Regions from separate parts of the Homo sapiens genome. Here region 1 is linked to region 2. The links come from fine-mapping of genetic effects on gene expression. Tissue or cell type: whole blood. Region 2 holds a variant in brackets; the other region holds the start of a gene. All regions are shown on one strand. Distances are between the middles of the regions. Region 1 holds the start of CCDC138 (coiled-coil domain containing 138). Region 2 overlaps CCDC138 (coiled-coil domain containing 138).

What was found.
Region 1: CCDC138 starts here. The variant in region 2 is fine-mapped to the expression of CCDC138 in whole blood (INTERVAL, PIP 0.94).

Annotation. Positions count from the first base shown.
Region 1 is chr2:108,785,305-108,788,224 of GRCh38, forward strand. It overlaps CCDC138 (coiled-coil domain containing 138), which reads left to right and starts at 1,467. Exons shown (of 15, transcript NM_144978.3): 1 at 1,467-1,611; 2 at 2,728-2,785. The coding sequence starts at 1,519. RANBP2 (RAN binding protein 2) reads left to right here. Exons shown (of 29, transcript NM_006267.5): 29 at 1-505. RefSeq lists a silencer at 1,276-1,865.
Region 2 is chr2:108,819,904-108,822,823 of GRCh38, forward strand. All of the region lies in intron 10 of CCDC138 (coiled-coil domain containing 138), which reads left to right. It also overlaps a transcript of RANBP2 not described here. Among named protein-coding and RNA genes, the nearest start is that of CCDC138, 35 kb to the left of the region's middle. The variant T/TA (reference allele first, on the strand shown) is at 1,115.

The DNA.
Region 1 (2,920 bases), 35 kb before region 2:
GTATCAGTTCAGTCTTGAACCATGGATTACATATGTTTACACTAAATATTTCAAATTGGCTTATTTGGAAATCTATGTAATATAAACTGATGTAAAGTGTGTTGTAACTTTTCAGCTGAGACAGTTGATGCCTTCGTCATGATTTTAGAATAAATTCTTAAGTTAATGCAAGTGCTTTTTAAGAGACTTTTTACAGATTTGTATGCTTTCCTAAAGCACTAAAGTTACAAATTAAAAAGCTTTAAAAACTTTGACCAAAAATTTGACAAAATGACATGTAAACTGACTTTTCCCGTATTAGTATTCCAAAGATGCTTAAAAGTGGCTTGTGGCATTTATGAGAAAGTCTTTGTGTCACATTTCAGGAAAGGACTTTGATTTCTCTTTGTTATTTAATCACTGATGTGGTCTAAACCCACGATAATATGTATCTTTCCTTTTAAACTGGATTTTATGTTGTCTCATTAAAATCTGCTTAAAGATAGAATAAAATTCATTATTTGTACATCTTAAGTGGTACTTTATGGCAAAAAGTATGGCCTAAGTAATTTTCAGATAATAACTGCTGAAGTACAGATTTTATAAAACTTGGGCATTTGGGAACTTTAATCCAGAGAATTTAGGAGTTGTTAGTCCAGAGATGCAGCTGACAGTCACAATTTAGAAAGTAAAAGATTACACCACTGTAATTTTATGAATGAGAAAAATGAAGTGGTTGTACAGTTCCCCTCAGTCAGTTTTGTTTAACATAGGTTTTCAGGTTGATGTATACTATGTACTATGGTTAGCACTGTTGTAGGTATTGGCAAAAGCTTTTTTCTTTTCAAAAAAAAAAAGTTTTTTTTCCAGGGTGCTTACATTCTAACTATTCTTTTTAATACCCTGTTATACCCCATATGGAACACAGGGAAAGTGAGGTAATCTGCAATGTCTATGCTCAGCTTTCCCTTTTTTTTTTTTTTTTTAACTTTAAGAGATGGGAGTCTTGCTATGTTACCCAAGATAGATGTAACTCTCAGGCTCAAAGCAATGCTCCCGCCTCAGCCTCCTTAGCAGCCGGGACTACACGCGCGCCACCACTCCCGGCTCAGATATACTCTTGGTTTTTCTTTTATATGGCAGTTAGCAAAGGTCACTTCTGATGGAACGACCGGTCTATGTGGTGAGCGCAACGCACACCAAACTTAACAGGTTAAATGGAGCTGGAGCGGAGCGCTGCAGGCAGGTGCGGGGCCTCGGTGCCCCTCAACCCGTGGCACCCAGGCAGCCGGGGCAGGACTATCGCGGGGAGATGCAATACTACTCAGTTACGAGGTGTGTAGTGCTAGCACGAGAAACTTGGAGGACGCGCTGACAAGCCGGGCTGCAGTCTCCGGGTCGCCCCGCCCCGCCCTTTCCCTGCCGCCGTGCGTGCCTCGGGGGGGCGGGGTCTGGCACGTCGTGACGCACTGCGGCCGCGTAGCGCCGCGGGTTTGATGAACGCGGTTCCCGGGGAGACTGGTACGGTTGCTGTGTGCTATGGAGCCGAGGGTCGTCAAGCCACCGGGGCAGGATTTAGTAGTGGAGAGTCTCAAAAGCCGCTACGGACTCGGGGGCAGCTGCCCCGACGAGGTGAAGCCGCCGCCTGAGGTCCGCGGGTGGGCTCCTGCTGCTGGGGGGCGGCCCGCTCCGTGCCCCGCGCAGCCGGCCTGGGGGCGCGCAGCGGCTCTGGTCCCGGCCCCGGCACTCCCGCCGTGGCTGCGGCTTGGGCCTCGTGGAAGCAGGCGGGAGGGGCGGGCGTTGCGCTGCGGGGGTGCGGGGGTGCCGCTTCACCTATGCCTCTGTGTTCCTGGTATACTGGGCATGGTGTGGTGTTGGAGAAAGTGCTATTCAGCTTTTTTTTGCAGTGATGTGAGTGGAGTTGTGAAAACAATTGAATTGCTTTTTAAAAGCGGCTTATTTCGAAATAATTTCGGACTTACTCAAAAGTTGCTGCAGTATTACCAAGAATTCCCTTGTACCCTCACTTGCATTCACAAATTAATATTTTGCCACATTGGCTTTACCATTCGTTCTCTCCCCTTCCCTCCCTACAAACGCATTTTTTCCCTTTGAACTATTTGAGGGTGATTTGCAGGCATCATGCCCCTTTACCTCTGAATAGAAATAACTTGTGCATTTTTCCTAAGCATAAGGACGTTGTCTTTTAATAACCACAGTAATATTTTCAGGAAATTTAGAATTGGTATAATATTTGGTAATCTAGAGTTCATAAGAAATTTCAGCAATTATCTCGATAAAACCTTTTATAGGAAAATTTTTTCCTAGTGCAGATCCGACCCAAGAACGAGCATTGATTGTATTTGATTGTCCTTTTTGTTGCCTTTAATCTGGAACAGGTTCACAGCCTTTGTTTTCTGTAAGGTTGTTTTTTTTTTGAGAAGTGTAAGAATTATTTATTGGATTGTTTCTCCGTTTGGGTTTATCTTATAGATGCTTCTTCGTTAGATTGATTATGCATTTTTGGCAGGAGCATGAGATGAGTGATGTGTGGCCTGCTGTGGGGAGGAACATGACGTTGGTTTGTCACATTATTGATGATATTAGTTTTGATCACTTGGTTAAGATGGTGTCTACAAGATTTCTCCACTCTAACCTTTGTAATTAATACATAATTTGTGGGGAAATATTTTGAGACAGTAAATTGATTTTTAGTATACAAATTAAATCTTTTCTTTTTTTTTTTAGTATGATTTTTCAAATTTTTATCAGTCTAAGTATAAGAGAAGAACTCTAACCTCCCCAGGTAAGCCGGTATTTTGTATATTTGGGGGTTTCAAAAATTTAATTTGAGGCTGGGCGCGGTGGCTCACGCCTGTAATCCCAGCACTTTGGGAGGCCGAGGCAGGCGAATCACCTGAGGTCAGGAGTTCGAGACCAC
Region 2 (2,920 bases):
TAATTTAAAAATGGAAAGAGAACACAAAAAACTAAGCAAAGTCAGGAAAATGATGCAAGAACAAAGTGACAGTATAAACTAGAAGATACAAATTATAAGAAAGAACCAAATAAATTCTGGAGCTGAAAAATACAATATCTGAACTATAAAAGTCAACAGCAGACTTCATTACGCAGAAGACATCAACACACTTGAAGACAGATAATCTAAAATTGAGTCAGAGGCTGGGCACAGTGGCTTACACCTGTAATCTCAGTGCTTTGGGAGGCCAAGGCAGGAGGGTCACTTGAAGCCAGGTGTTCAAGACCAGCCTGGTCAACATGGTGCGACCCCGTGCCTACAAAAAGTTCTAACAAAATAATAAAATTATGTCAGAGGAGCAAAGAGAAAAAAACGAAGAAAAGTGACGACAGTCTGAGGGACTTATGGGAGATCATCAAGTGAACCACTATATGTGTAATGTAAGTCTTGGAATGAGAAGAGAGAAGGAGAAGGAGGAGAGAGCTTATTTGTAGAAATAATGGCTGAAAACATCCCAAACTTTCCTTTTTTTGAGGAAAGAAATAGGCATACAAGTTCAAGAAACTCAAGGAACTCCAGAGAGGACAATTCTAAAGACACCCCCTCTAACATACATTATAATCAAATTGTCAAAAGTAAAATACAAAGAGAATCTTTTAAATTGACAAGAGAAAAGCAGCTGGTCACGTTCAAGGGAGTTCTATAAGAATTTCAGCAGATTTCTCAGCAGAAACCTTGCAGGCCAACAGGCAGTGGGATGATACATTCAAAGTGCAAAAAAAAAAAAAAAACAAACAACAAAACTGTTAACCAAGAGTACTATATCCAGCTAAACCGTCCTTAAGACTTTCTCAGATAAACAGTAGTTGAGGGAGTTCAGTAACCATTACACCTGCCCTATAAAAATTACTAAAGAGAGTCCTTCAGGTTGAAATGAAAGCACACTACACAGCAACATGAAGCCATATAAAAGTATAACATTCTGTGTTAAAGGCAAATAAATGGACAAATATAGTAAGTAGCCTATATTATTGTAATCCTGGTATGTAAGTTGATTTTTAATTCTTGCATAGAATGTAACAGACAAAAGTAT[T/TA]AAAAAAAACTGTAAGTCTATGTTAGGGGTTAATACAACATATAAAGATATAATTTGTGGCCGGGTGCGGTGGCTCACGCCTGTAATCCTAGCACTTTAGGAGGCTAAGGTAGGTGGATCACCTGAGGTCAGGAGTTTGAGACCAGCCTGGCCAACATGGTGAAACCCCATCTCTACTAAAAGTATAAAAATTAGCCAGGCATGGTCATACGTGCCTGTAATCCCAGCTACTTTTGAGGCCGAGGCAGGAGAATTTCTTGAACCTGGGAGGCAGAGGTTGCAGTGAGCTGATATCATGCCATTGCACTCCAGCCTGGGCAACAGGGTGAGACTCCGTCTCAAAAAAAATAGAATTTGTGATATCAGTAACATAAAGTGGGAATGTGGAGCCATAATGATGCAGAGTTATTGTATTCAGTTGGCATTATTGATGTAAAATAGTTATAACTTTAAGATGTTTTATGTAATTGATTGCAAAGAAAATACTTACAGAATATACACAAAAGCAAATGAAAAGGGAATCTAAGTGTGTAACACACACAAAAATCAGTGAAACCCAAAGGCAGTAAGAAAGGAAAGGAGGGACAAAAAAGCTACAAAACATACAGAAAAAAATTAACAAAATGGTAATAGTATGTCCTTCCTGGCCGAGTGTGGTGCCTCATGCCTCCAATCCCAGTACTTTGGGAGGCTGAGACAGGTGGATTATCTGAGGTCAGAAGTTCAAGACCAGCCTGGTCAACATGGTGAAACCCCATCTCTACTAAAAATACAAAAATTAGCCGGGCGTAGTGGTGGGTGCCTATAATCCCAGCTACTCCAGAGGCTGAGGCGGGAGAATTGCTTGAACCCAGGAGGTGAGATTGTGCCACTGCGCTCCAGCATGGGCAACAAGAGCGAAACTTTGTCTCAAAAAAAAAAAAAAAAAGTATGTCCTTCCTTTATCAGTAATTACTTTAAATGCAAATAGATGAAATCAAAAAACTAACTAGAGTGGCTGATTGGATTTAAACAGCCAGCACCCAACTGTATGCTGTCTACAAGGGACTCATTTTAGATCTAAAGGCACGTATCAGCTGAAAATGAAAGGATGGAAAAAGACAATCCTTGTCAATGGTCTCCAGAAAAGACTAGTAGTAGTAATACTAATATAAGACAAAATATACTTTACGTCAAAAACTGTTACAAGAGACAAAGGACACTATATAAATGATAAAAAGGTAAATTCACCAAGAAGATATAAATGAGAAATATTTATGCCCTGAAACATCAGACTTCTAAAATATTATAAAGCAAACATTGACAGAATTGAAGAAATAGTAACATAATACTACTAGGAAACTTCAATACCCCACTTTCAGAAACAGATAGAATAACTAGACAGAATATAAGTAAGGAAATAGAGGGCTTGAACAACATAATAAATTAACTCGATCTGTCAGACATATACAGAACACTCTACCCAACAACAGCAGATGATACATTCTTCTCTTCTCAAGTGTACATGGAACATCCTCCAGATAAACTACGTGTTTGGCCACAAAACAAGTCTTAATAAATTTTCAAAGATTGACATCATTACAAAATTTCTGATCACAATGAAGTGAAACCTCAAACCAAGGAAGGATAACTATAAAATCCACAAATATGTGAAAATTTAAAAACTCACTCTACAGCAACCATTGGGTCAAAGAAGAAATCCCAAGGAAAATTGGCAAATACCTTGAAACAAAAAAATACATCATACCAAAATTTATAGGATGCAGTGTTAAGAGGGAAGTTTGTAGCTGTAGATGCTTACATTAA